4 linked regions of the Homo sapiens genome follow. The protein of the gene in region 3 interacts with the protein of the main gene of each other region in a pairwise test. Each region holds a gene or a part of one and is shown on either strand. Other genes may lie near its edges.

Evidence for each region.
Region 1: the proteins of PNMA5 (region 3) and DZIP1L interact in binary tests that used the Homo sapiens proteins (3 or more experiments, as listed by UniProt).
Region 2: the proteins of PNMA5 (region 3) and FSD2 interact in binary tests that used the Homo sapiens proteins (3 or more experiments, as listed by UniProt).
Region 4: the proteins of PNMA5 (region 3) and CEP57L1 interact in binary tests that used the Homo sapiens proteins (3 or more experiments, as listed by UniProt).

The regions. Positions count from the first base shown.
Region 1 is NC_000003.12:138,112,024-138,120,859, forward strand, and holds the start of DZIP1L (cilium assembly protein DZIP1L), read right to left. Parts: upstream 3,586-8,836; 5' UTR 3,305-3,585; intron 1,458-3,304; exon of another isoform or gene 1,366-1,457; intron 478-1,365; exon of another isoform or gene 341-477; intron 1-340. UniProt on the Homo sapiens protein: Involved in primary cilium formation. Probably acts as a transition zone protein required for localization of PKD1/PC1 and PKD2/PC2 to the ciliary membrane.
Region 2 is NC_000015.10:82,794,934-82,803,756, forward strand, and holds part of FSD2 (fibronectin type III and SPRY domain-containing protein 2), read right to left. Parts: intron 7,706-8,823; exon of another isoform or gene 7,611-7,705; intron 1,434-7,610; exon of another isoform or gene 1,317-1,433; intron 1-1,316.
Region 3 is NC_000023.11:152,986,955-152,991,570, forward strand, and holds the end of PNMA5 (paraneoplastic antigen-like protein 5), read right to left. Parts: coding exon 3,298-4,616; 3' UTR 1,870-3,297; downstream 1-1,869.
Region 4 is NC_000006.12:109,167,680-109,175,914, reverse strand, and holds the end of CEP57L1 (centrosomal protein CEP57L1), read right to left. Parts: 3' UTR 1,497-8,235; downstream 1-1,496. UniProt on the Homo sapiens protein: Centrosomal protein which may be required for microtubule attachment to centrosomes.

The sequences.
Region 1 (8,836 bases), on a different chromosome or scaffold from region 3:
GCAGAACTGTGGAACTTGAAGATGATTATGATGATATGATGATAGTATAATAGGTAATATTTATCAAACATCTATATGTCAGGCACTGTGCCTGCCTTTAAAAGTAGTAATTCTAAACTCATATAGCCTTGTAGATGGCTATGGTTCGTCTCATCTCACAGATGTAGAAACTGAGGCTCAGAGAAGCTAAGATCCCTGCTCACTCAGCTACTAAATAATGAAGCCAAGATTCAAACCAAGTTCTATCTGACTCCAGAGCTTTTGAATTATGCCAAACTCTTAATAATTATGATAATTATAATGATATACAAATTATTTTCCATTATGGAAATTACAATACCTGAGTTTTCTTGACCAAAGTGCAAGCGCTGACAGAGTTTACAGCAAATCACCACAGGGTTAGTGTTGGGGATTCTAAATTCTCCCTGTATTTCAGCAGGGCTTGTCTGAACCCGACTCAGCTCCACAGCTTGCGTCCTGATTAGGATAGGCGGACAAAAAGCCAAATGAGAGTGTTGCATGTTACCTGGAAACCATACACCCCAGGGGCAAGGACATCGTGCTTTTTTCAGACGAATTGTGAGCAGACTGCTTTTCCCACATCTGGGAATAAAAACACAAGGAAGAAATGACTCACTGTCAACCAGGAGCAGTGGCTCTCGCCTGTAATCCCAGCACTTTGGGAGGCCAAGGAGGGCAGATCGCCTGAGGTCAGGAGTTCAAAATCAGCCTGGCCAACATGGCGAAATCCTGTCTCTACTAAAAATACAAAAATTAGCTGGGCGTGGTGGCTCATGCCTGTAGTCCCAGCTACTCGGGAGGCTGAGGCAGGAGAATCACTTCAACCTGGGAAGCAGAGGTTGCAGTGAGCCGAGATCGCACCATTGCACTCCAGCCTGGGCGACAGAGTGAGACTTCGTCTCAAAAAAAAAGAGAGAGAAGAAATGACTCACTGTCATTAGGAAAACTGAAGCTGTTTAATCACCTTTAGATATATTGACAGGGTTTTGGGAAACTTCCCATTCCTAGACCAATATTATGAATAAGGGACCCAAAAGAATATTTGTGCTAACATTCAAACTTGCTTCATTGTTAAGAGTTGGTTTCTGCCTGGGACAATCCCACACCCATCTAGAATATAGAAAACCCATCTACCACCCTTGCTTTGCACACTCCCAGTGACAAGTTGTTCACCACCTCACAAGACAGCCATCCCACTGTGAAACAATCCCTGGAGACTTTATGGTTCTTCTAAAACCGGCCCACCAATAATCTGTCAAAAATAACTCCCTCAAAATTGGCCAAACACCTTATTTTTTAACATAAACTGACAGCTAGACAACAACAACAACATCACCACTTTACTGTCTCTTCTGCTTCCTCAAGAATGCAGTCAAGAGGAGAACTTGAGGGAGCCAAGTTTCCAAGGTGGCTGCCAGGCAATCATTTACAAACCTGCCCTGGCTCCCAAGCTAACTTCAGCAGTGCCCACTGGGGGAGCTCAGGCGTGTCATTAATGCTAATTGTTGTGGCTGCCAAGGAAACCTTCACACAGTTTGCAAACAGGCTATGCACACACAGTATGCAAGGGAGCTCCAGAGACCTCAACAGAGATGACAGGGACCTGGGAGCTCTCCTGAAGTACTGCCACTGCAGAGCTTAGCCTTATTCTCAGATTCCATGGTGTTCTCCTTTTCCACTCTTCCCTGACCCTCATGGGGGCTGCAGCGACTCCTAGAACCTTCAAGCAGCGAGACAAAGGTCCCCTCAACCGGGCACAGCGCTCTCCTTACACCTGGCCTCCTATTCCCAGCAACTTTAAGGAGATATTTTTAAGTGGCCATGGTTTTATCAAAAGCCTATTAAGTTTTTGCCACAAACGGATTTTATTTAAAATAAAAATAGGGGTAGGTATTTGACTGATGTCTCTTGGGAGTGTTTTAGAGAAGAGGAATGAATACTGACATGTCCTATCTTCCCAGATGCAGAATTGTAAAACAAACAAACATAATTGCTTTTCACATGTAAAAGAAAACTGGCTTAGAACATACTAGCGTTTTCTTTGCCATGAAGGAGTTCACCTTCAGTGACTAAGCCAGAACTACTAGAGCTGCCAGGCCTAGGGACAGGAGACATTGCCAGTGCTTAGCCAGGCTGGCCAGGACTAACCATCTCTGCAAGGAGTCCACAAGAAGCCTCAGGGCAGCCTTTCCCTGCTCCTATCAATTTGAGTTGAGCAAAAAACCTTTGACCAAATATCAGCTCCATGGCACAACCCACAGTTATGGTGCCCACATGAACTCAGGTTTCTGTTCCCAACCTGAAGCATACAACTTCATGAGGTATTTTATCAAGTTAGATAGTATCAAAAAATATTCCCAGATGAGGGAGGTGTCTGACCAAGACAGTCAGAAGGCCCCTTATCAGCCACTAGACTGGAGGATCAGCCTTCCCTAAGCAGGATTGTTCTCACTGGCCAGTCCTCACATCCGGGAGGGGGAGGAGAGGTGCTAGGGGCTGCAACTGAGAAGGGAGAGATCACCCACCCTATCTGCAGATGAGGGTGTGAGAAGCCAAGTCAGAACACCCCATACTTCCCAGGCCTCTCTCCAAAGTCCTGTTAGAAATCGAATTCCAGGAGACCAGGCAGGGGCAGCCTAGGCCCTGGGCCCCTAGGAAGTGCTCCGTGAACTAGGCCCTGCCCAGGCAGCCTCGGACCCCCTCCTCTGCCCTGCCTCCTGATCCCTGTCCTGCACTGAGCAGGTCTTCGGTGGACTTTATGCGCAGCCACCTCAGGATGAAAATACCACGTCTGCCTCCTGCTGAGGTCCAGCCCAGGAAAGGAAGAAGGGGAACGAAAGATGCCAATGCGATTGCTTTTAAATCACCTCATTACTAAAAGAATCCTCCTTTACCTACGGCACTCAGATCATCAAGCCCTCCCAAATCACTTTTCTTTTTTCAAAAAGTAAAAACCCAAGGCCGTCTTCCCAGTGAAGCCGAGTCTTGGGGCATCCCGTCATTCGTCCCCCGCGCACGGGTCCTTCCCTCCCTGGGCGCCGCAGTTCGGAGCAGGCCGAGGGGGCCGGGCTGCAGGGCCGCGCCGGGCCAGAAGGGCGCGCCCTGGGCAGCGCGGACGCACGCAGCCGGCTCCTCCCGCGCCCCGCTGCACCCCGGCAGGGAGTTCGCCCCCGCTAATGTTTAACCTCCCGAATCGCTGATCCCTCGGACTGCAGCCAAGCTACCCACCCGCCCCGCTCCCGGGACGAATTCCTGGCATAGTTTTCCCGCGCGGCCCGCTCACCGTGGGGTCTCCTGGAGCCGGGGACGGCGGGAAGACGTCTCGAGGTGGCGGCTCCCATACTCGCCCCACGTCCCGCCTCCAGACTTGCTCCACCGCCCCAGACAGCCCAGAGATGGTTCCCGGAATGCTCACCGCCCGCCGTTCCCGGGATGCTTCCCCAGCCCCACGCAGTCCGGGCGCTCTCTGCGGCGGAGGCAGAGCCTGCCCGGCCCACTCCAGTGCCGCCAACCTGCGGGACCGCGGACAGAGAGCTCCTCGGTGCGTCGGTCAGCTCGTGGCTTGGGGTCTCTGGTGCCTCCAGCTCCTACTACAGCCGCCCCGCCCCACCTCAAGAAGAGGTGGAGCCTCTCCCGGCCCCTCTCGGACGAGCTATTTTTAGGTCTGTAACGGATGGGGGAAGGCGGGAATGCCACGTTTAATCCGTTAGTAAAATCCAGGATCCAAGTGAATGGCTTCCTGGCCTTGCTGAGAGGCTGGACTTGCCCCGGTTTCCCCACACCCTGCCTCCGGTACAATCGATAGCCTGCTGTGCAGGGGCGGCCGCACCCCCCGGGCAGATAGCCCTGCCCACCCTCCTAAAGGGACCGTCCTGGTTTCTTCCTGACCGGATCCCAAGCTAGGAGAGTTCTTTGGGTGTGCCCCAGGTCTGATCAGACAGACAGCAGCCACCTTCCCTCCGCAGCCCCCACCCACCACCCCCTACCCTCCCAACCTGCTGGTTTGCCCTGGGGATGCCAACTTGGAAACCCAGGACTGAAAAACTTATTTTTTCTCCTGATATTAGTCCCTGATCTCTTCCCATAGTAGTAGTTGCTTTGCTGAGATTCCGTTTTGTGGGCACCGTAACTGTGAGTTGTGCCATAGAGCTGATATTTGGTCAAAATGTTTGTTGCTCAACTCAAATTGATAGGAGCAGGGAAAGGCTGCCCTGAGGCTTCTTGTGGACTCCTTGCAGAGATGGTTAGTCCTGGCCAGCCTGGCTAAGCACTGGCAATGTCTCCTGTCCCTAGGCCCGGCAACTCTAGTAGTTCTGGCTTAGTCACTGAAGGTGAACTCCTTCATGGCAAAGAAAACGCTAGTATGTTCTAAGCCAGTTTTCTTTCACATGTGAAAAGCAGTTATGTTTGTTTTACAATTCTGCATCTGGGAAGATAGGACATGTCAGTATTCATTCCTCTTCTCTAGAGCACTCACAAGGGGCATCAGTCAAATACCTACCCCTATTTTTATTTTAAATAAAATCCTTTTGTGGCAAAAACTTAATAGGCATTTGATAAAACCATGGCCACTTAAAAATATCTCCTTAAAGTTGCTGGGAATAGGAGGCCAGGTGTAAGGAGAGCTCTGCGCCTGGTGGAGGGAACCTCTGTCTCGCTGCTTGAAGGTTCTAGGAGTCGCTGCAGCCCCCATGAGGGTCAGGGAAGAGTGGGAAAAAAGCTCCTTTTCACACACACTCTCTCTCTCTCCACTCCGCAACTCTTCTCCCTCCCTCTTTCTCTTTTTTCCATTTCAAAGGCTTTCGTCCCACCACAATCTCAATCTGCCAAGCTCTACATTTTGAGGCAGCCAAAGCAAATGTGTATGGGAACAAGCGTTGTCAAGGACTTGCAGGGAAACTGGAACTCCTGTGCATTGCTGGTGGGAATGTAAAATGGTACCATTACTGTGGATACAGAATGGTAGTTCCTCAAAAAATTAAACAAGAATTGCCAAAAGATCCAACAATTCCATTTCTGGGTATATACCCCAAAGAACTGAAAGCAGGGATTCAAACAGATATTTGTATACTCATGTTCATAATAGCATTATTCACAATAGCCAAAAAGTGGAAACAATTCAAATGTCTATCGACAGATTAATGGATAAGCAAAATGTGGTATATCCATACAATGTAATATTAACTTTAAAAGGGAAGGAAATTCTGACACATGAATGAACCTTGAAAACTGTCTTAGTCTATTCAGGCTGCTATAACAAAATACCATTGAGTGGGTAGCATATAAACAATAGAAGTTTTTTTCTTACAGTTCTGGAGGCTGGGAAGTCCAAAATCAAGACATTGGCAGATTCGGTGCCTGGTGAGGGCCTGTTTCCTGGTTGATAGGCTGTCATCTTCTCACTGCACCCTCACTTAGTAGAAGGGGGCTGGCTAGCTCTCTGGGGTTTCTTTCATAAGGGCACTAGTCCCAATTATGAGGACTCTACCTTCATGACCTAACCACCCCCCAAAGGCCCCACCTCCCAATACCGTCACCTTGGGGGTCAGGATTTCAACCCCATTTTGCAGGGACACAAACATTCAGATCAAGGCAAAAGCATTATGCTAAATGAAATAAGCTGGACACAAAAGGACAAATATTGTATTATTCCACTTATACCTGGAAATATTGTATGATTCCACTTGTACCTAGAATAGTCCATTCACAGAGACAGAAAGTAGAATAGTGGTTACCAGTGGCTGGAGGAGGGGGAATGAGTAGTTATTGATTCATGAGTACAGATTCTCAGTTTGGGAATGATGAAAAAGTTCCAGAGATAAATGGTAGTGATGGTTGCACAATAATGTGAATGTACTTAATGCCACTGAATTGTACACTTGAAAATGGTTACGATGGCAAATTTTACATTATGTACAGTTTATCACAATTTTTTAAACATTAAAAAAAAATAGTGGATGGAGCAGGGACCAGGACTAAGTTGGGATATCTGTGCACCATGTATTCGGATGGGGGATCTTGTTCCTGCCGTCTTCTCCTAGTCAGGGCACTTTTTTCACCCCAGGATTTTCTGCCACCCACAAGAGCAAAGAGAAGAGTCCAGGCCTTGGGAGTCAAAGACACATCTACATTCCACATTCCCAAGCTACATAACCCTGGGAAAGTCACGTAGCCTCTCTGACCTTTCATTTTTCTCCTCTGTAAAATGGGAAAAGTAAACTCTACCTAGAAGAGTTGTTAGAATCAAATTAGCTAAATTACATGTAGGCTCTGCCCTGGGCCTACAAGTCAGTGGTGTGCACTCCTGACTTGACACTGTGAAATCGCCAAGGACATTTGCTTCTCAGCTCTCTTCCCACTGTATCCCTGAAATTTGCAGAAAGTAGTTCTGAGGATACCTTTGTGCATGTTATTTCCACCAGCCTCAATTTCCCCATGTGTAAATAGGGTGCCCTCCTTTGCAGGGCTGGTGTAAGAAAGTAGACTTGACATGCACCCAGATCTACCTTAGCCAAAAACCAAATCCTGAATCTTGAGCTGACTAAGACCTCATGCATGGAACCCTCACACTCTTCCCTTACTGGGCCTTAGTTCAACACTCAACACAGGGAGGAGTTACTGCATGCCTATCATGTGCCAAGTTATTTTCTTAGTCCCAAGGATACCAACAACCTCTAGAGGACTAGATCACTTGGCACTGGAAAGCTGTCATTTCTGCTGCCCACCTCTACTGTAGCACACACAAGCTCTGGCATCAGCCGTGGGGACAGGTGCATAGACCAAGGGAGACTGGCCCTAGCTGGCTAGTCCAGGAGACATTCCTGTCACCCCGAGCAGCTGGCCCATAACTGCTGGGTGGGAGGACAGGAGGATGGATTTTCAATATCCCAATGGCCCCTCACTCCCTCCTCAGCCCAGTACTAGTCACCCGCCCTCTGACCCAGCTCAGCCCCTTTCACAGACGGTCTCCCTCCTACACCTCAGGAAATAGGACACAGCCTAGACAGCCTGTAATAGGAGTGCCCTCTGCTGCCAAATGCTGGCATCACACCTTAGAAACCTGCTCTGGATCCCATTCTCCTGAAGGGAAGTGTATCTGAGGTGTATGGGACAGGTCTCCCTGCGCTGGGATGCCGGCCACTAATGAGCCCTGAGGTGATTTTAGGTCAAAAGTGTATTGTTGGGTTTTCTGCGTTGATGTATAGATAGGCAGGCATACAGTCAGAGGAGGATTTTACATAAAATCTGGTTTGCTGGTTTCTGAAAAATCTAAGAATCTAGCAACAAAAGAAAGGCCTGCACTCTGACATGTCTAGAACTGGCAGGATCTGAGAGGAAACTTTCTTAGGCAGATCGTACATTCTAGCCCAATCCCTGAAAAGTTCACTTTGAAGGAAGTCTGAGCACTTACCGAAAAGACCTCCTTTCTCAGGAAAACATCCCTTCTGCAAAAATGAAAATGCAGAGCTGGATAAGCCTGGCCTAAGGCGTGGCTGTGATATGGCCCCTCATTGGCTGGCAGTGATGGGCGGGTGGGATCTAGAAGGAGCTGCCCCAGCTGCCTCCTGCCTGGGCTTTTGCCTTTTGGAGGAGGGATTCCTCTTTGGCAGTTTGATGAAGCCCACACCCTTTCCTCAGAATGGTTTTTATTTTTATTTTTTATTTATTTATTTATTTTTTGAGACGGAGTCTTGCTCTGTCTCCAGGCTGGAGTGCAGTGGCATGATCTCGGCTCACTGCAACCTCCACCTCCTGGGTTCAAGCGATTCTCCTGCCTCAGCCTCCCAAGTAGCTGGGACTACAGGCGCCTGCCACCACACCCAGCTAATTTTTGTATTTTTAGTAGAGACGGGGTTTCACCATGTTGGTTAGGATGGTCTCGATCTCTTGACCTTGTGATCCGCCCACCTCAGCCTCCCAAAGTGCTGAGATTACAGGTGTGAGCCACCACGCCCAGCCTAAGAATGGTTTTAAATGCACCAAGCAAAACATAGAATTACAGAGGACATCAAAATATTGAAAATATAGCTATGAAAACATAAGAAAATGTGTAAAATAATAGCATTTTTGTTTATTAATGCATTAAATGGCAAGATCTAGCATCTGACCTAAAAGTAGTAAGAGTGTAAACAATTATTTCAAGATATCCGTAATAACTTTAATGTGATAGGAAAAAACTAATATTTAATGACAAAGTCACAGGTTCTACTAATACTACTGTGGTTTGTGGCATACATTCATAATTGGAAGGAATGATACATTTTGATTAACAGCTAGTAAAAATAAAGAGTAAGTTCCCAGACCCCCAAAATCTCTTCACAGCCCCCTAAATTAAGAATCCCTGCCCCAATACCACCAAGGAGAGTGCACTAACCTTGTAACTTAGTTTAGAAGATACATCTGAGATTCAGGGTCCTGACAATTCCCTTGGGTGAGAGAGCTCTGCCTTTATTTCTTGAAGGGGAGCAGAGTGACAGAAGGGTAGGGAAGCATGGCATGAAACCCAAAAAACAAAAAAAAAGACAGGTTGGATTACATAAAAATTTTGAAACATATATGGTGAAAACATCCTAAATGAGGTTAAAAAACAAAGAACTAAAAAAAATGCAGTGTAATGATACAGTATTCATGACATTAATTTATAAAGAGTGCTTACAAATCAACAAGAAATAGAACAACTCAAAAGAAGAGTGGACAAAAGATGAGATGATTCATATAATAAAAAAAATTGCCAGTTAAACATGTAAACAACCTTACCAAAATGAACATAAAAATTACATGTTTTAAATTATTATACTGACCAAAATTAAATAGA
Region 2 (8,823 bases), on a different chromosome or scaffold from region 3:
CATGATGGTCTCGATCTCCTGACCTCGTGATCTGCCCGCCTGGGCCTCCCAAAGTGCTGGGATTACAGGTGTGAGCCACTGCGCCAGGCAGATTGGCTCTTTTCTAATGACAGTGTATCCCTCTTTATCTCTACTAACACTTTTTTGTTTTAAATCCATTTTTTCGGATGTCAGTACAGCCCCTCTAGCTTTCTTGTGGTTGCTGTTTACATGATTTATCTTTTTCTATCCTTTTAGTTTCAATCTATTTGTATTTTTGAATCTAACGTGTGTATCTTGTAGACAACATAGAGTTGGCTATATTGTTATTAATTTTTAATTGATTCATTATGAGAAGTTTCCTAAGAATTTCTAAATTACAACACTTTGTTGGAGGAGCTCAAGCTATGATTTTTTTTTCCATATAACAAAATGGCATTTCCTACAAAATAATATAACACGCCCCCAAAGAAAATCCTCCCCAGAACCTGAGAATGAACATTCCAATTCTTAACTTTCTAGTAGGATAATAAATCAGAGGTTAGAAGAAGATTATCATCTACAAGTCTATCAGAACTAAATATAGGCATTTATGGCTATATCAGAGGAAGACATTTCACTCTAAAGGAGTATTAGGCCAGGTACAGTGGCTCACGCCTGTAAACCCAGCACTTTAGGAGGCTAAGGTGGGCAGATCATTTGAGCTCAGGAGTTTGAGACCAGCCTGGGCAATATGGTGAAAACCCATCTCTACCAAAAATACAAAAAAATTAGCCAGGCGTGGTGGCACACGCCTGTAATCCCAGCTACTCAGGAGGCTGAGGTAGGAGGGTCTCTTGAGCCCAGAAGACGGAGGTTGTAGTGAGCTGAGATTGCACTCCTTCACCTCAGCCTGGGTGATGGAGCGAGACTCCATCTCAAAAAAAAAAAAAGTATTAGATGATAGGTGAGTTATGATAGGAGAGTAATTATGAAGAGGACACTAAAGGATACTCTAAGACTGAGAGAAAAACTGTAACACAGGATAAACTTCACAGGGAGTTCAAATGTCATAGAAGAAGTTTTGATTTCCTTTTCTTTTTCTTTTCTTTTTTTTTTTTTTTTTTTGAGATGGAGTTTTGTGCTTGTTGCCCAGGCTGGAGTGCAGTGGCGCGATCTCTGCTCACTCAACCACCGCCTTCTGGTTTCAAGTGATTCTCCTGACTCAGCCTCCCAAGTAGCTGGGATTACAGGCATCCGCAACCACATCCAGCTAATTTTTGTATTTTTTAGTAGAGACGGGGTTTCACCATGTTGTCCAGGCTGGTCTCAAACTCCTGACTTTGTGATCCACCCACCTTGGCCTCCCAAAGTGCTGGGATTAGAGGCGTGAGCCACTGCGCCCGGGAGAAGTTGTGATTTCAACCCACATCATGGCAAACGGAATTGTCCTGGCCAGAGCTGGTCCCCAGTGGCTGTAAAAGCAAGAAAAACATATGGAAACACAGGTGAACCAAGGTTGGCTGGCAGGTGAGCTGAAGAAGTTGGCAGCATTGCTGCGGGCATAAGACGTATTAGGAGAACCAACGGAAAGTGGTCACCAGGCCTCATGAGAGACTCTGAGCCACAATCACCCAGACGAACTGTTCTCAGGTTCTTGACCCTCAGAAACGATTCAAGAGAATAAATATTTGTTGTTTTAAGCTGTCAAGTTTTGAAATAATTTGTTATGCCACAATAGATGACTAGTTCATTGTCCCAGACTAAAAATAAACTTTCCACCCAGCTTTCTCTGCTAGCTGCTATTCTCTCTTTCTCCCCTTTCCCTCTCCAGACTCCATCAAAGGGTGGCATTTCCACCATCACTCTTCAGGCTATGGAATCTGTATGCGAAGACTTTCCAAGGGGTACATGGTATAGATAGCTTCAGGAGGATCAGCTCCCAGATGCTCAACTTTATATTTAATCTTTCCCAGAGCTGCTCTGCCTGGGAAGGAACTAGCATTTGAGGCTTCATGTAGATTCTTTTTTCACAATAGTCCTTTTTCTCTTTATTACAAAAGTAAAACTATACCTCTCACTTATCCTGAATATTTCATTGCACTGTAAGATTTCATTGCTTGGTAATTAAAAAAAAAAAAAAAAAAAAACACCTCCAGGGGACTAAATGGAAGGACAATTTGAAGTATTGCTATCAATGGTGGAGGGTGAATGACATTAATGAATGCATAAGAAAAAATTTGTTTTCAAGCTAAGTGGTTTCCAGTTCTTTGCTTTCAATAAAGTTGAAGGAGGATCTAATCAAATTGTCAGCTAATATATGATTAAAAATAATTTTTCATGATAGATCACTATGTACTTTTTGAAACACATTTCAGAAAGAGTTCAAAAATGTGAGTGACATTGCTATAATAAAACACTTTCATTTCCATCAATGTTTGATTACGTAGCTAAGCAAGGTTGCTCTGTTCTTACATCAACAAAATGAAAAGCGGAAAGACAATTGACCCTAATTCCTGTTGCAGTCTAAAATATGTAATTTTCATCAATGGATACACAAATAAACTTTTTTTAAAAAAGCTCCATCTACCTCATTAAGAGATGCATTTCCATTTTATTTTTCATTTAACAATTATTGGCCAGGCGTGGTGGCTCACGCCTGTAATCCCAACACTTTGGGAGGCCGAGGCGGGCAGATCATGAGGTCAGGAGATCGAAACCGTCCTGGCTAACACGGTGAAACCCCATCTCTACTAAAAATACAAAAAATTAGCCGGGCGTGGTGGCGGGCGCCTGTAGTCCCAGCTACTTGGGAGGCTGAGGCAGGAGAATGGCGTGAACCTGGGAGGCGGAGGTTGCAGTGAGCCAAGATCACGCCACTGCACTCCAGCCTGGGCGACAGAGCGAGACTCCATCTCAAAAATAACAATAATAATTATTATTATTTACCAAAATTTGTAATATGTTTATGTTATTTTGCTTACATGTGATTAAAAGTTGTATTGGTAACTTCATCCAAAAGAAAAAAAGAGTTTAATATTCAGAGATGTATGGTCCCAGGAGAACAAGAGAAAATCTTTCATCTCAAGTTATACATCTGTATTTTTGTAGAGAAGTATCATAGATGACCAACAAAAGACTTTCCAAGCACAGAAAAATATTACAGGTCAGGTACAGTGGCTGACACCCGTTATCCAAGCACTTTGGGAGGCAAAGGTGGGAGGACCACTTGAGCTTAGGAGTTCGAGACCAGCCTGGGCAACAAAAAGAAACCTCACCTCTATTTAAAAATCAAAAAACAAAACTAGCCCAGCGTGGTGGTGTGTGCCTGCAGTCCCAGCTACTCGGGATGCTAAGGTGGGAGGATCACTTTAGCTTGGAAGATTGAGGCTGCAGTGAGCTATTATCTTGCCACTGCACTCCAGCCTGGGTGACAGAGCAAGACCCTGTCAGAAGATAGAAAGGAAGAAAGAACGAAAGGAAGAAAATTCATGTTTTAAGTGCACAATTCAATGATTTTTAGTAAATTCCCCAAATTGTGCAGCCATCATCACAATCCAGTTCCTAATGCCTACCCCCATTAAAAAATTGTGGTAAATCTAATGTCTTTTTTTAAAAAAACTAATATTATTAAACTATTTTAACATGACATATATATATAATGTTTTGAGAAAAATAAGCAAAATATTTTAAGATATGGTTTAGCACTGTTTTTTCCTTATCCATCACTTTTATGATCCAGTTTTCCTTAACTTCCATTTATGTGATCAAAGTTAGCAGCCAGCTGTTTGTCTTCCCTATTTGTTCCACAGTTGTACACAGAAAACAGAAGTCAACAAGTTCGTCGGCTTCCCCTATCAGCTCTGTTTAACTTTCTGCAGTGATAGACTGTCACTTCTGCTGATAGACTGTCCTTTTAATAGCCACTTCCCAAACTATATTTTTAAAAAGGCATTAAGTTTTCTTTCCACTATCTCCACTGTTTTGTTTTTTTTTTTTTTTTTGAGACAGGGTCTTGCTCTGTTGCCCAGGTTGGAGCACAGTGGTGAAATCTCAGCTCACTGCAGCCTTGACCTTCTGGGCTCAAACAATCCTCCCACCTCAGCCTCCTGAGCAGATGGGATCACAGGCATGCACCACCACGCCTGGCTAATTTTTGTAATTTTTGTAGAGACACGGTCTCACTATGTTGCCCAGGCTGGTCTCAAACTCCTGCTTAAGCAATCCTCCCGCCTTGGTCTCCCAAAATGTTGGGATTACAGGTGTGAGCCAATGCGCCTGGCCTATCTCCACTTTTGATTGCCCTTTTAATATAACATTTTCTCATGGCCTAATTTGGAAATTCATGGACCCTGTCTGGTGCTCTCCTGACTGCTCCATGCCATTCAATCCTATTGACCCTTCTGTGTCCCCCGGCTCAGCTGGGATTTCCCCTAGGCCACTGACTGCTGAAATCTCTGCCAAGTTCCTCCCCTTGGCTGCTCTTTATATGCAGGCATCCCCTTAACCTCCATTCTAGGCCCTCTTCCCACTCTCCACTTGCTCTAGGTGATCTCATCCAGTCTCACAGCTTCTATGTCCCCGTCTTTTCTGAGGGCTCCAAATCCATGTCTCTGGCTCTAACCTGTGCCCCATGCAGAGGCAGAGGCTCAGAGGTGCAGCTGCTGTCTTGAGCAGCCCCCTCCAGCAGCCCCCTCAAACTCAGCACTGCCAGATGGAGCTCATTGCCTCTCTCTTTCCCCAACTCACCATGTGGTGTGACGTCACCTCCACGGCAGCCCCTGCATGCTGCCTGTTAGTGGGGTGTCCTCCCACCAGCCCTGCCAGAACTCCTCCTCTCAATAAGGTTTCTCAAACTTTCCTGCACACACGTCGCCTTGGGGTTCTGGTTAAACGTAGAGTCAGAAAGTCTAGAGTGAGGTCTGGAAAACTGCATTTCTAAATCTCTAAATGGTGCCTATTCTGCTGGTCTACCTTGTAAGGTAGAAGATGCCTGGATGCCCAGCTGGCCCGTGAGAGGTTGGGACAGTCTTCCAGAAAACCCACCTTCTTCAGCCTCTCTACACTCTGGCCATGAATGTCTGTGATGTCCTGAACTGACTGCCTGCCCTTCCCTCTGCCCTCCCTGGACATTCCTGCTGTAAGCCTCCAGTTTCATCCCTCTTCCTCAGCCTTTATTTGTGGAGGCCAAGTTACCCATGGCCTCGGGAAGAAGAACTCTGCCCTGCGTCCTCAGAGAAGAACTCTGTCTCTGGTCAGAGATGACACCTTGCCCTTATGGCCTGGACCTCCCCCTTCCTTCCTGGGGACAACCAGCCAGGCTCTGCTCACTGCCTGCCCCAGTGCCCTCCAAGTTTTGTCCTGCAAGCACAGGAAAAGGCTAGGAGTAATGATGAGGAAAGCAGAGGTGCCAACACAGTTCTACATCTGGCCCATTTAGGAAGGATTTGAGACAGGCAGGCTAGCTAGGTTCCTATGTTAAGATGGTCTGGAGGAAAATGATAAAAGCCCCTCAGTCGGCCCCACACAGTGGCTCACACCTGTAATCTCAGCACTTTAGGAGGCTGAGGTGGGCAGATCACCTGAGGTCAGGAGTTCAAGACCAGCCTGGCCAACATGGTGAAACCCCGTCTCTACTAAAAATACAAAAATTAGCTGGGCGTCGTGGTGGGTGCCTGTAATCCCAGCTACTCGGGAGGCTGAGGCATGAGAATCGCTTGAACCTGGAAGGCAAACGTTGCAGCGAGCCAAGATCATGCCACTGCACTCCAGCCTGGGGGATAGAGCGAGATTCTGTCTCAAAAAAAAAAAAAAAAAAAAAAGCCCCTCAGTCAGGCTCTTGCTTATCTAACTCCCAGCCAATCAGTAACAGAAGACCCAAGAAGCTATAACTGCTATAACCATAAGCTCCTATTTCGGGGGTCTAGGGACTTCCTTGGAGACCCAAATGTGCAGTTACATTTAAACTCCAACCTATAGTTACCCCTTCTTCATTTTAATGCTAAAAATCACCCCTGGGGTGGTGATTTAAAATGCTAATGCTACATATAATATATGAAGAAGCATGTTGAGCCACTGTGCAAGCACTAGAAAAACTCTCCTACACCTGCCCCAATGTAACCCTTCCCCATAGAAAGCCTTTATAAAACTAACCCACACACTACTGCCCTCAAGGAGCAGCCCATTCTTTTCTTCTTCAGTGCCAGCTTCCTTGTGCACAAGCTAAAATAAACTTTCTCTATGCTGCTGTGTCTGGTGATCTCTCTTGATTCCTATCCTGGGAGATTACAAGAACCCAGGATGCTGGAAACATTTTGATCCAAGAATAGGAGGTTCTGGATCACAGTGATGGAACCATGTCCTGCTCTTAACCCAGAGGGGCCCTTAGTCATTTCATCTGGTGCTCCGTACCAACTATCACTCCCCCAGTTAATCGTGGCTACACCCTGCCTTCGAAATCCCTCACATTTCCCTCCATGGGCTCACCCTGGCTCTTTCTGACAGCAAGACAAAAACACAAGAACCAACCAGCCTTCTCTGATGGTAGACGGGTTGGGGAGGTGGGATGTGGAAGTGTGACTACCTGGACTCAGCCCTGGTGAGCCCCTGGGGACCTTCTCTCTTCTCCTCTTCACTCTGAAGTGTCCACGGGATGCTGTTTTTCTAGGTACTGTATCAGCACCACACAGAGAGGTCGACTTCCAGCAGTCATTAGGTGACAAAGATGCTGCTATCCTAACCCAATGCCATGTATGTTATTGGTTTCAGAGATCTGGATCCTCATAAGGAAACCTTACTCCTGAGACTCTAAGACTTGGGAACATCACTCTTGGAGTTCTCCCACTCTCCAATGCTCCAAAACTCTTCACATGGAAGATAGTGGTAAATATCACTTCAGTAACACCTGCTGAGGCTGAGATACCATGACCATGCAGGATTAAAGCACACAAGGCACCAGCTCCACCATGTCTTGGTCCATGCCACCTGGGACCACAAACAGGATCAGGTCCACCCCTAGATGGAGAGAAGGATGAGTGGAGGTAGGTTTCCAGAGGCAGCATCGCAAAGCCAGTGGTTTCCAGGCACCAGGGCCAGTGTTTTGCCTCCACAGCCAGTGTTTTGCCTTCATATGATTTATGAAGACTCCAGAATTGAGTTTTCTTTATGGGGAGGTTACTACTAAGAAACCTGTCTACCATTAGGCTCTGGCTGGGGCAGTCCTGGCTCATCCTCACTAATGCAGCCTGTACACAGGGCTGGAGAAGTGTGGCTTCAAGTGAACTAGGGCACAGCTTCTTCTCACACTGAATCTGCATCCCAGCAAAACCAGTGCTGAGCTGGACCAGCAAGTCTCCCCCTCCATACATACCAGACCCAAGGGATTGCTAGCTCCTCCTGGGTATCATGCACATTGCCTGCACTTTAGCCCATGTTTCCCTCCGATGGTTCCCAAGGTCAAAGTTCCCTTCCAGCTATGGAAACACCACTTTGCCTCCTCTCTCATCCTGAATCCCTTGTTGTAGTGGATGATTCTCAACAAAGTAATCAGAGCCTTCTGCCCTGAGAGGCCCTGAATCCTGCCTTCACACTCCTGTATGTCAGATTGCCCAGCTAATCAGAATTACCCACATTGCATAGAAATAATGTCTTACCATTAACAGCTGGGTTGAGCTCTTACTTGGCATCATGGGGGAGGAAGAGTAGGAGAATGAAGCTGAGCACAAGTACCTCTGGAAATAGAACCTGAGAGGATGGGAGGGTCATGCTTCTTCTCTATGGGCCTCTTATCAGCCAGCAACAGCAGCAGCAGGTCTCCCCAGCTTAGGAGCAGTTCCTCATTTCTACTCCACCAGGTCTCCTGGTTGCTGCCTCTGCTCCTGGGGCGTTATAGATTCCACCTGGTCATGGCAGAGTTAGTGTGTTATGGGGCAACATGGAATGACCTGGAAAGTCTGCACCCATGCAGAGGTCATCTGGTGAAGCCCTAGGTCCTTCTGTGACCCTGGCTAACCTTACCACATGCATGGTCTGTGGTGTTGGGCATCATTCATTGCCCCAGCTCTGAATGTTCATGGGGTTGGTGAGGTGTGAATTCAAGAGAACAGGATTGGGCTAGGCGCTGGGGGTACAATGGATGAGACACAGTTGCTGGTGTCAAGGAGGCTCCAGACAAGTGACTAAGGGATTATTACCCCATCTGGGGCTATGCACAACTTCTCAGAGACGCTGCTTTCCCTCTTTCCTGGGACCCCAGAGTACTTCTCCTTCCTAAAGCACAGAGTCTGTGCCAAAATCCCACTATTTCCCTCTGTGGCTCGAAATCTTGCTTGAAACCCTCCTGTCTCTACAGTCTGCTGACTGCGCGCACCATGGTCCTTCCTCAGGGGTGTCCCTGCCCAGGATAGCAGCATAGCTTATACAGCATATGTTGCTTTGTTCAGGCAGAAGTGGTACATCTGCACATCGTGCATTCTGAGGGCTCCATTACTGGCAAGTCCCAACTCTCCTGGGCACCAGGGATCCCCCACCCCATGCCATAGCTCTATACTCCCCAAGCAGCCCCACCTTCCCTAGCGGTAACCCTCTGTTCCTTCTGGCCGCGCTCAGGGTCTTCCATGTGAGACTCACCCTAGGCCCTGGCTCAGACTGTCCTGCCTGCTGAGAGCTCCCACTCTTCCCTATCTCACCACTGCTTCTTAAACCCCATACTCATCCAACATGGCCCTCCATGAAGTCCACTGCATTGCTACTATCCATGAATGAGAGCATGACATCCACCCCCTCCAGCACCAAACCAGAGACCAGAAGCTCATCCTTGACACCCCCAATCTAATTAATAACTAATTCATGCTGATTCTGACTCTA
Region 3 (4,616 bases):
ACACACGCTCAGTGATGCAGTCACATTCTGTCACTTGGATTCACACACATTCTCAGAAACTCATGCACATGCTCACACTGACACACACACGCACACGCTCAAACACACCCGCTCACTCACACTCACACCTGCTTGGGAATCACGGCACACACAGGTCCACTCTGAACAGGGAAAACCAAGGAGCCCTGACAGGCCCTGGCAAGGTCAGCCAAGCTCTATGCCCTCTCCTCTTGCCCTGTCCCCAAAATCTGGAGGGGCCCTTGGAAAGTGAGCAGTTGACTTGGCCCTGCTGAGACACAAGGGACGGACATGCTGGGGTTGTGCCCAGCCTGAAGAAGGCAGGGAGAACAGAGCACAGTGGGGGCCCCAGGCATGCCTGCAGGGCACCCCGATGGGACACACTACAAGGGTCCCTGAGACACCGGTTAAGCACCTTCAGGCCGGGGAGGCTGCAGGCCCAGCCCCAGAGACCTGCCGCCCCCTGCCCCTCCCCGACAGCCCCGCAAAACTACCCCTCCCATGCCTGCACTGGCCTGTGTATGCCGAGTGTCTCCCAGGGCCCCTGCCGCCCTGCAGACCTGCTGACTGCAGCTCCGCTCAAGCAGACAGGTCGCCTAGATCCAGGATTCCTCAGCCCAGGTGGGCAGCCACCCATTCCCAGCATTGGCTCTGAGGCTGCTTTGGGGGAGCCTGGCTATCATCTGAGCCATGGGGATGGCCGGAGGCTCTGTGCTCCAGAACAGCCGGAGGAAGTGTGTGGACACAGACTGAGTGAGCCCCGGGAGACCCTCGCCACGTCCAAGTCAATGATCCCGTCCCCTCCCCACACATGTGCAGGGAGGGGCCTATCACTTGTCCCAGTTCTGTCGCCCACAGACTCTGGGCTAGTTAAATGGCTGATCGAGGACTACCCTCCATTTGTGGCGAGCTCCCTGGCCTGTTGGGAGAGAGAGCCAGTCCCAGGAGGGCTCAGGAGGGCGGGTTCCAGGATCCTCAGGCCCCCACCAAGAACTGCCCCTCTGGCCACAGTGCTGAAGGAGGGGTGTCTGGATTAGCAGCGCCGTCCATCCTGAGGGAGCCCTCCTCAGGCAGCATCCAGGGCTCAGAGGGCCTCGGGGATGCAGGACAGAAAGGGGTCACTCCCCAGGGCCATCTAGGCTTCCTGCTCATGGCCCACTGCCTGCTCCCAGGACACAGGAGTAGAGCGCCTCCCAGTACACTGGGAAGGGAGCAGGACAGGACCCAGGATGAAGTGCAGCTCCCCCGCCCTTCCTCTCCCCCTCCCCAAGACATGAGCACTTGGGATCCCTTTCTCGCCCACACTCTGTCCCCTTGGCCATCACACACACACTGTCCCCAAACATCCCTCAGTGGCTAGGCCAAGGCTGGCCACCTGCGGGCTGATCTGGGAGGATGGGCACACACCAGCCCCTACCCCACCCCGAGTCCTGCACACAGCTCTTCACAGGGCCTCTGACTGCCTGTCCAGGCCCTCCTGGGGCTCTTCTCTGACCTCGGTTGCTGGCCTTGGTTGCACACGTGGCCTCTCTGACCCTTCCGGAAGCCTTGAGCCACACCCCTACAGTGCTGCCAGGGATCAGGGGCCTGGGACCCACCTGCTGCCCCTTGCCCAGCCTTCAATGTCCAAGTCACTTATTCCTGAGGACACCTGGAGTGCCTTTGGTACCCAGCCAGTCACTGCTCATGACCACCAGCATCCTGTTGCCAGGCTCCATGCAGCCCAAGGCACCCCACAGGCCCTCATAGACCCTGCCCCACACACACCTCGATGTCAGCCTGGCCACTGTGGCCCCATCCCCAGCAGACCACCTCCCACCCCAGTTTCACACAGCAGAGGCAAGACACCACTGGAACACTGAACAAAATTTACTGAAGAGAAACATGAACTGAAACTGCTGAAGAAAAGGGAATCTAACACAGAGAGAAACTGCAAACAGCCACTACAGGTCACAAGTCCCCGGCCCCTCCCTCAGTGTGGCCCCCCCCACCACATCCCTCCTTCCATAGGGCCCCAGGATCCACCTCTTGCCAGGATGGTGGGCTCTGGCAATGTGTACTCGCTTCAGGGAACCCCCTCCTGAGCCCACCCGCTGGGGCAGGGCCCTGCCCTATAGACTGCACAGGACAGTCACAGGATGCTGGAAAACATAGCAGGGAACACCCCACCAAGTTGAGGAAACTGAGTCACGAGTAACAGCAGGGGTGGAACGCCAAAGCACAAAGCTTCCTGGGGAGCCTCAGGCAGCCCTGCTCCTTCCCGTGTCTGGTTGGTCCTCCTGCAGTCGAGGTCACAGTCACAAGGTGAGCGTCTGCCATGCCTCCTTCCCACCGTCTCCTGGAACTGCGCTGGGGTACTCTGGAAAGGAGCTGCTCAGATAAAAACACACACATCCCCAAGAGAACAAGCAGCCACTGGCCGAGATCTACACCGGCAAAGCAGAGGTGGAGTTCTTGACACGGAACAGCAGTGAGCAGAGCCCGGGCCTGATGATGACGCAAACCAAAAACAACTACCCACCCCCAACACATCCTCTCTTCTCTTCTTACACTTCTTCCTCCTCCTTCCCCTCTTCCTCCTCCCCCTCTTCCTCCTTCTCCTCCCCCTCTTCCTCCTGCTCCTCCTTATTCTCCTCTTCCTCCTCCCGATCATCCTCTTCTTAATTCTCCTCCTCTTTCTCTTCCTCACTGGTGCAGGGGCTTATGAATGCTGCCTTCCTGGGGCTCCCCTCATGCAGTGTAGATGATCCTAAAGACAGGCTGGACCCTGTGGCCTCCCCTGCGGGGCTTCACTTCTGCCCCACAGCTCTTCCTCAGCAGCCCTGGCTCCTTCTGGCAGAGGCAGGCCCCAGGCAGGCTCCTCCAGGTCCCACGTGGCCTGGGTGCCAGTGGGCATGCTCAGCTCAAAGTCCACAGGGTAGATATTTGGGGGTGTCCAGAGGACCAGGCCAGAGCCCCCAGCCACACCTTCTTCAGCCCCTGCTTCGCTGGGGTCCCCATCTGAAGCCCAGGCACCCCATGTGCTAAGTGTAGTGGTTCCCCGCTTGTGTCTCCTGTACCTGTTAGGGGCTATGGGCCCGGCCCCCACTGAACCAGATGCTATTTGGTCTTGGTTGGTGAAGTCCCTTCCAGCTGGTGGAAAGTAAGGGGGCTTGATCTCGACCTGGCTTCCCTGTCCCTCTGCCCCAGTCAAGTTCCCTGTTAGTGTAAGCTGCCCCTTCCCCTTGTTCAAATGTCCCTGCTGCCTGCCAGGGGAAGGAGTGCTTCGGTCTTCTGAGCCTATGTTTCCCAGGGCTTGGGATGGCTCATGGCCCCAGCCCCTGCCTCGTTTCCCAACTCCTCTCCTGCAGCCTGTGGCCCCTCCCTGCCTGGAGTCTGGTTTTCAGCCTTGGGATACGTGGCCTGGCCATGGTCTTCTCCCCTAGTGCTTTCACTGCCTAACAGCCGCCTGCGTTTCACTAATGGGGGTAAGCCTCCCTGTATGGTCTGGGGGCTGCTGTCGCTAAAAGACCTTGCCTGCACGGTGGCCTGAGGTGCAGAGACACTGGCTTCTGCTCTTGCCTGTCTACCGGAGGCCCCCCGGCCTCTCCCTGATGGCTTCTCCTTATTCTTCATCACTGCCTCAGTGTTCTCCCACTCTTCTTCATCTCGAATGAGCTTCATTAACTCCAGAAAATTGGGAGGACACCCTCGCTGATCCAAGAGCTCCAGCTTGCCCCTGAGGGCGGGGGTCATGGCGACCCGAGCTAAGAGATGTTTCAGACGAATCATGTCTGTGCTGCGCACTGACAAGGGGCTCTTGTGCACGGCTTTCTGCAGCAGGGGCTCTAAGCGCAGCAGGAAAGTGGAGACTTTCTCTCCAATCTTCGGAGAGGTCTGCAGAAACCTAAACTGAGAGGCTCTAAAGTCCTCTTTATCCCCAAAGATCTGCTTTAGGGCGTCAAGGCACTGCTCCACAGTTATGGAGTCATTGTTGGCCTGGAGCACCCGCATGATTGACAGAGCAGGCCCACGTAAGCTCTCCAGCAAACGCCGCCTCTTCTCCACCTCAGACACTTGCCATATGGGCATTATCTCAGTGACCTGCTCTAGCCAGTCTTCAAAGGTCTCTTCGCCTGGGCTAGGGGAAGCAGTTCCCGAAAACACTTTCAGTTTCCTGTACCACATACTTTCTTTCGGAGGCTCTAAAGGTGGGGATCTAACTTGGGGCATGACCTCTGCATCCAGGCTCTCGGCAGGGAGGCTGCAACATCCCAGGGCTCTGGCCACATCTGTCATACTTCGGCCCTCATCTTTCAGGAAGTAGTTCAGTCTACTGAGAAACTCATCATCTGGGTTACGGGGTTTTACCACCACTTCCCAGGAGCCACCCTTTCCTGGTATGTGACTGGGCAGAGTAGTGTAATTGACAGTGTCAGCCAGTTCAATGAAGACTGCCTTGGCATTGTCTTCCCTCCTGAACATTCTCCCTAGGACCCTGTATGCGCACAGGGGCTGTAAGCCTGCCTTCACAGTGTCCTGAATTTCCACCTCACTACACTCCATGGGGATGCCTACAATCAGCAGGGCCTTTCTGGGGTCCATGTCCATCCCCTTGC
Region 4 (8,235 bases), on a different chromosome or scaffold from region 3:
TGCCAACTTTTGCAATGATAATAGATGAAAATCTGTGATGATCTTTGTGGCTATGACAATCATGTGAGAAAATCGCTGTCTTTTCTACCATGATTGGACAACTACAAACTTGGTAATACTGGTAATTTTGTGGGTTTTCCTTTTTTTTTTTTTGTATTTTTTTATTTGATGAGCCAGTTCTTTTAAAACTTGGGAGTTGCTTGCAAACTTTCCTTGAAAGTAAACTTTCCCCCCTAAATCCTTTGTCTATATTTCTTTGACAATTGTGTAGATTCCTCTAAGATTTTGTGTATGCATCAACCAGGGTAAAGTCCACCACATTGTCCATGAAGAGCAACTCAAGGGCTGTTCGAGGTATACATTTTCCAGTCTTGAGGCAATAAAGTCTTCATCTAGTTGATTCAAGTTCTTTTTCTGGCTCTTCATATGTTTTTTGCTTCCTGGCCAAGTCTGCGTTTGACACTGGTTCTGATTTGTAAACAGCCACTTATTTCTCCTTTGGTGGCAGCAATGTTGAAAATACACATTTTAATGGTCGATCCGTTCTTTGTGAGGCAACAATGACAGGACATCTGATTGTACTTTGTTTTTGTCTTGAGGATTCTGTTATCTTCTGTCATCTAAGATACATCTTTTCTTTGCATCTGGGTCTTAAGACATGAGTTTGGTCAAATTGATAGGTTGCATTAGTAGGTTGGAAAGTTGCTCATATTACTCCCTACATCACTGATTTACTTTCTTTCTCATCTTCTGACCATTGACGAAACTTGTTTTTCATTTTTTTGTGCCACTATGAGTTCAAATCAATTAAGAAAAATATTTTTGTGGCCACTGGAATGCAGAGAAGCCCTTGGAGATCTGGAGCTGCTACCATTAACCAATGACTCACGCTTTTTGTACTTTTATTACATTTGATCCATCTGTGGCTAATGTTATAAACTAAGGCTGGTAGTTCTGTGTATTGCTATTATTTTTTGAGATAGGGTCTTGCTCTGTCTCCCAGGTTGGAGTGCAGTGGCATGATCATGGTTCACACGGCCTCCATCTCTGGGGCTCAAGCAATCCTCCCATCTCAGCCTCCCAAGTAGCTGAAACTACAGGCATGCATCACTATGCCTGGCTAATTTTTAAATTTTTTTTGTAGAGATGAGGTCTCACTATGTTGCCAAAGCTGGTCTCAAACTCCTGAGCTCAAGCCATCCTCCCACCTCAGCCTCCCAAAGGACTTGGATTACAGGCGTGAGCTACCACGCCCAGCCTGCGTATTAATTTTTAAAAACCATCTTTTTTCTCCTCAAAAAGGAAGGCATAGTTCTTTGTAATAGTCCATTTGTAATTACACAGCTTTCTTTCTCCAAAGTCAATGTCCTTTCTCCCTCAGAAATATGCTGGAGATTGAACAGTCAGAAAAAAACATCATTTGAACACACTATTTAGGGATATCTAACTCCAACAGACAAATCTACCATGAAAAAGAACAAAATATACACAGTGAACAAACTTGGAAATTGTTTTTATGTAACTTTAGAGCAAAGGGTAGAAACTTTACAGAAGGTTTTGCTTGGTTTGTGTAACCATTCTACAAATAAGCCTGGATCTGTGATGGGATGGGAATGATTGCTGCCAGCTTGTCTGGAACATTATGACCTCTGCAAGAAATCTGAAAAGTTCTCAGTGCATAACATACTCTCTCCCTTCTCAAAAGAAAAGAGTAAAGTATCCATCTTAGACACTGTAATTTATATCCATTAGGCCCTATCTCCTAACACTGCTTCATTGGAGATGGTTTCCAACACAAGGTTTTTTTTTTTTTTTGAGACCAAGACTCACTCTATGGCTCAGGCTGGAGTGCAATGGCATGATCTCGGCTCACTGCACCCTCTGTCTCCTGGGTTCAAGCGATTCTCCTGCCTCAGCCTGATGAGTAGCTGAGACTACAGGTGCATGCCACCACACCCAGCTAATTTTTTTTTTTTTTTTAGTAGAGACGGGGTTTCACCATGTTGGAGGCTGGTCTCAAACTCCTGACCTCAAGTGATCCACCTTCCTTTGCCTCCCAAAGTGCTGGGATTATAGGCGTGAGCCACTACGTTCAGCCCCAACACATGGCTTTTGAGTGACATATTGAAATCATAGCATGTGACTGATTTCTATTTCTAATGGACACAGAAAAATTCTGCCGGGCACAGTGGCTCATGCCTGTAATCCCAGAGCTTTGGGAGGCTGAGGTGGAAGGATTGCTTGAGCCCAGAGTTTGAGACCAGCCTGGGCAGCAAAGTGAGACCGCGTCTCCTCAAAAAAAAAAATTTTTTTTTTTTTTTAATTAGCCAGGTGTGGTGGCATGCACCTGTAGTCCCAGCTACTTGGGAGGCAGAGGCAGGAGGACTGCTTAAGCCCAAGAGTTTGAGGTTGCAGTGAGCTTTGATTGCATTCACTCCACTCCAGCCTGGGTGACAGAACAAGACCCTGAAAAGAAAAAAAAAAAAAAAAGAAAGGTAGGGGGCGGGCTGAGGGGGAAGGAAAGGAAAGATTCCTTTCTTCTTTATCTCAAACTCTCAATAGGCCACCCTTGAATAAACTGGAAGGAAATAATATTCTTTAAATGGTCTCATGTTCCAACTGACCTTTTAGGATTCAGGAAAAAAATTAATAAAAATTATTAATATAACTTGTAAGTAATACAGTGTCAGGAAAATGCAAAAATAATACTGTAGAAAATGACACAATTAAAAAGTACACAAACAATGGTATACATGGTTAAATATTACACAAAAGTATCCCTTTACTTTTCACAGACATGTGGCTATTTGCATAGGTTCAAAAAAAACATGTTCTCCTTCCTACCAGGCAATAATTAACAAATCACTTTTGTAACCATCACCATGCCACACATCTCATTAAAGTAGATATGGCAAACCCATTATTAAGCAAAGCAGTCCAAGCAACTTGGCTGAGGTAAATTGACCGGTTCTTGGTTCCTGACTTCAGTATAGTATGTGGGCAGTATCTTACACATAAAGAAATGACAACCTCTTGGGCTTGAAAAAGCCTCCAGACAAAGTTAACTCCTATGTTGTAGTAACACATGGCCCTAGTTTTATTAACTAGACTTATAAGAAGGTCTTTGTATACTAAGCGTAACCTTTTATCACACTCACATAATAAAACTAGTCATCAAACTAATGATACTAAATCAGAAAATCACTAAGCAAATTTATGGCCAATTCCATGCTTTAGGAGGAAATTTGGAGGCAAGACTGACACCTTAACCAGAGGCCATGATAGGTAAGCAATGCACATCACTTTTGGGTCAGAAAACAAAAAACAATACCGCAGTAAAGGATCAACATAGCAAGTCTTGATTGTGTAAACTTTTCACATTCCAAAGAAATGTTTGTCCTGTGTCCAGATTCAAGATAACCTCTAAGTCCTTGGACTATCCTGCCTGATATGAATGTTTTAATTTACTTGGGGGCCTTAGGCCATACCAGGTAGTCTAAGCTAACAATGTGATTAATGGTGAAGTCCTTAGGCCATGTAGTATCAGCTCCATCTTTGGAGGGGCTGAAAACTGAAGGTCAGCCACATGGGCTATCAGTCATGCTATGCCTACGTGACCAACCCTCAAGAAAAAATCTGGACACCAAGGCTTGGTGGAGCTTCCCTGGTTAGCAATTCTCCAAGAATGTTGTCACACATTGTTGCTGAGAGAATTATGGTCTGTCTGCTGAGAGAATTATGGTCTGTCTACATGACTTCACAGGTGAAGGACAACTGGAAGCTTGTGCCTGGTGTCCCCCAGACTTTGCCCTATGTGCCTTTTTTCAGCTGCTGATTTTAATATATATTCTTTTGCTATAATATACCATAACCATAACTTAACAGCTTTTCTGAGTTCTGTGAGTCCCTCCAGTGAATCACTGATCCTGAAGGTGGTCTTGGGGACCACCCGAGATAAAACACTGAGGTAAGGTTAACAACAAAAACAGTCACCACACTGTCTAGTTCTCATTTCCCATGTAAATGAAACCTTGAGCCTTTCCTGTAAATTACTAATAACTATATCCCTGGTCTTGGCAATGCTGATATCTAAGGATACATGATGACCTCTGATATGATGATTATCTGAGGAAACTGTTTTCCACCATGAAAAGAATAACTAAACTTGGTGACTTTGGTAATTTTGTAGGTTTTTTCATTTTTTAATTTGATAAGCCTGTCCTCCTAAAGCTTGTACTCCCTTGCAAGACTTCTTTGCATATAAACTCCTAAATGCTTTAATCTTTTAGTGGTTTATGTTTTTTATTTCTGTAGATGGTAGTTTAAACTGATAGTATTTTAGTAGAACGGTTTAAGAGAATCAAACTCTAGGCAGGGCGCGGTGGCTCACACCTGTAATCCCAGCACTTTGGGAGGCTGAGGCGGGCAGTTCACCTAAGGTCAGGAGTTCGAGACCAGCCTGGCTAACACGGTGAAACCCCGTTTCTATTAAAAATGCGAAAAAAAAAAACAGCCGGGTGTGGTGACGCATGCCTGTAATCCCAGCTACTTGGGAGGCTGAGGCAGAAGAATCGCTTGAACCTGGGAGGCGGAGGTTGCAGTGAGCTGAGATCGCGCCATTGCACTCCAGCTTGGGCAACAAGAGCGAAACTCCGTCTCAAAAAAAAAAAAATCAAACTCTACTTTGTGGCATTATTTATGGGAATGCTCTGAGAATGAGAAATCACAGGCAAATATATCATACCCAAACACCAAAGGCACAGCCCTCTTTCGACTTGAGAGCCATTCTGTAAAAGAACAAAGAAAAAAGAACCTGTTTGAAATTTTGGCTTAAGTGTCCACCATTTAAATCATACCTTGAGAGAATCAAGAATGTAATACTGATATAAATTTTTCTAAGCTTATAAAGGAGAAGTTATATACATAAAATAGAATAAGTTTTTTAAAAAATCAATTATTTTTTAGATTAAAGTAAAAGCAGATATCTTTAAAGTAACTTGTTTTTAACTCTGGTACTGACTTTCCCAGCTTTAAATTGGTAGCTTGGTTCATTTCAGGGAAAATGAAGGCAATAATGCTTTTTATGTGTTCAAGCATTTCAACAGTGCTATTCTCTCACATGTATTACATATTTTGGATAAGCTATCTCTGAAAATATTTTGTAAGATATTAAAGATACTTTTGCTAGAAATTGTAAGTTATAAAACCATAAATGTTCCACAGACTTCTCGAGAGCTTTTTAAAATTTAATTTTAAGTGGGTTTCCTGTGCACCAAAATGGTTTATGTTTTAAATAACACATTTGTAAAGTTAAACGGATCTACAGTGATGAAGAGTGAAATACTTTCCAATTCAGCAAGATTCTGGACAATTGCCCTGTAAACATCAATCTTGTATTTCAGGCATGAAATGATTCACATTCTGTACTAGGTTCAGTAACAGGTTTTTCTAAGAAATACCAAAGGTCAATGTACATTTAACTTTAAGGCAAACTAACAACAACAACAACAACAACAAAATGCCTCTCAAGGTTTTTTAGAACCTATCCTAAAATTTACTTAACTACATTAAGCCAAGTCAGGTTGAAAAGTACATTATTTTACATTATTTTAGCTGATTGGAAGGTCTGGCTCACTTTACAATCCTCTGTTCTTAAAGACTAAGATTTCTTTCTTTAATTGTTTAGGTTAACTTTAGTAATTTGTAGTGGTGAATAAACTTCTACAAGTGGGTAGAATCCCATTACAATGGGATTATATTTGGTGGCCTTATTATTGCTCATTACCCTATAACACTTCTTCCTACCTTCTGACCATTGTCCAGAGCAGAGTGGCTTTGCTGATATGGTTATAAGAAATCTATTAAATAGGATATTAAAGGCCAAAGAAATCCTCTCAGGAGTTAGTTTATTTAATGAAGCTATCTTTCAGGTAAGATATTTATCCACTTATTCATTTTAAAATATTCAATCAGGTTGATTGCTGAGTAAGATGACATGTTTTTAAAGAGTACTACATTGGTGGTATTATCAGGTTTTTAATTTTCATGGTGCCACTGACTGTTGATGCTCGGAAAAATAGGGTTTGTCAAATAACAGATCTTTGCTCTCTTCAGATTGGAGACATGCAGATAGTTTTTCTCCGACAAATCTCACATTCTTATTGGTTGTAAAACTGTCTGAAGCACCTACAGAGCAAATTTCTTTCTTAATCATAAGACTCATGCTTGGTTAGATTTTACCAAGAGGTAGCATAATGAGGTCATTTTGTTAAGGGATTCATACTGAATGTATTTATTTGCCCACATTAGAAAACCAGTATTTCTCTAAGGTAAGTTGGCTAGTGTTTGAAAATTGTATTCTATAGACCAGGAAATGCAACAGTATTGATTAAAATGAGACTTGTTATCTGTAAAACACATGAAACAATATTTCTGGGATAAACAATAGATTGGCACATCCATAACAGGGGACTTGGGAGTATTCCTATTTTAAATTGGCTATTCCACTTTTCTCCACACCCTTCAAATTCATTCTCACTGAATACTTATTAAAAGCCAACTTTTTCTTCCCTAAAAAACATTTAGGGCTACATTAAAAATGACAACCCGTACTCACAAAGTTTCACAAAACATAAGCTACCTTAATTATGTGTGATGCACTCTGATCTTTTTTTTTTTTTTTTTTTTTGCTGATGGAGCCTCACTCTGCTGCTCAGGCTAGAGTGCAGTGGCACAATCTCAGCTTACTGCAACCTCCGCCTCCCTGGTTCAAGCAATCCTCTGGCCTTAGCCTCCCGAGTACCCGGGATTACAGGCACATACCACCATGCCCGGCTAATTTTTGTATTTTTAGTAGAGATGGGATTTCACCATGTCGCCCAGGGTGGTCTTGAACTCCTGAGCTCAGGCAATCTGCCCGCCTCGGCCTCCTAAAGTGTTAAGATTTTACAGGCGTGAGCCATCGCACCTGGCCACATTCTGATATTTTCAATACTATTTTATATCATTTAAAAAATGCTGGCCAGGCATGGTGGCTCACGCCTGTAATCCCAGCACTTTGGGACACTGAGGCGGGCAGATTGCCTGAGCTCAGGAGTTCGTGACCAGCCTGGGCAATACAGTGAAACCCCATCTCTACTAAAATACAAAAAATTAGCAGGGCATGGTGGTGCACACCTATAATCCCAGCTACTTGGGAGGCTGAGGCAGGAGAATTGCTTGAACCTGGGAGGTGGAGGTTGCAGTGAGACGAGATTGTACCATTGCACTCCAGCCTGGGTGAAGGAGCGAGACTCCAATCTCAAAAAAAAAAAAAAAAAAAAAATGCTGGTAGTGACCCGCTAAATTGATTTGACAATCCACCGGTATGACTGTATGTACTATGAAAAACACTGACTGGATCCAACCAATGAGGAGGCTGAAGTATGCAGAAATTGAGTGGCTTAAGTTCATAAGGGAAGTGAATGGCAATCATTTACACAATTCTGTGCAAGTCAATACTTGGCCTCTAGAATATAACCTTTCTGTATAATTCTTATTGTTCTGTTTTAGTCTAAGTGATTATTGCTTGATTTTCCCCCACTTCTCCATTTACTTCATTGTTTCATACCCACTTTTTCCACTCATGCCTTTGAATTGGATTATAGACTGGCTATGGCCGGCATTTTGAAATTACTAAAGGAACTGGTATCTTCAATCAAGAAGCCTAATAAAGAGTGAAAATCCTAGACCAATACTGCTACCAGGCAAAAAATTTAAAAAGGTGAAGGTATATAAATCAAGATAGATAGAAAATGAAGAAATTACAAACAGGCCAACTTCTTAAGCACTTTATCGATAGATGAGAACAAACATTTAGTAGGCAAATAAATATTTGAGCATCTGCTCTGTGGTTGTCATTATGCCTTTCATGTCACTTACTGTTTTCTTCCTTTTAAATATATATACATCTTATCTCTCCTCAAGACTATAAGCAACTTGAAAACGGAATTCCATAGTAGCTAATACAGTATTTTGAGATCAATAATTAGAGATCAATAAATACTCACTGATGAACAAGTCAAACATACCAATATCCAAATAAAGAACTCTTGGCTCTCAAACCTCTTCCTCTTAGCATAGTATCAAAGAAAGCACCATTCTGGTGCCCACAGTTGGTGGAACCACACCCTGCCCCTCCCCAAACAAACAATACTGGGCTATTCCTTTTTTCTTTTCTTTTCTTTTTTTTTTTGC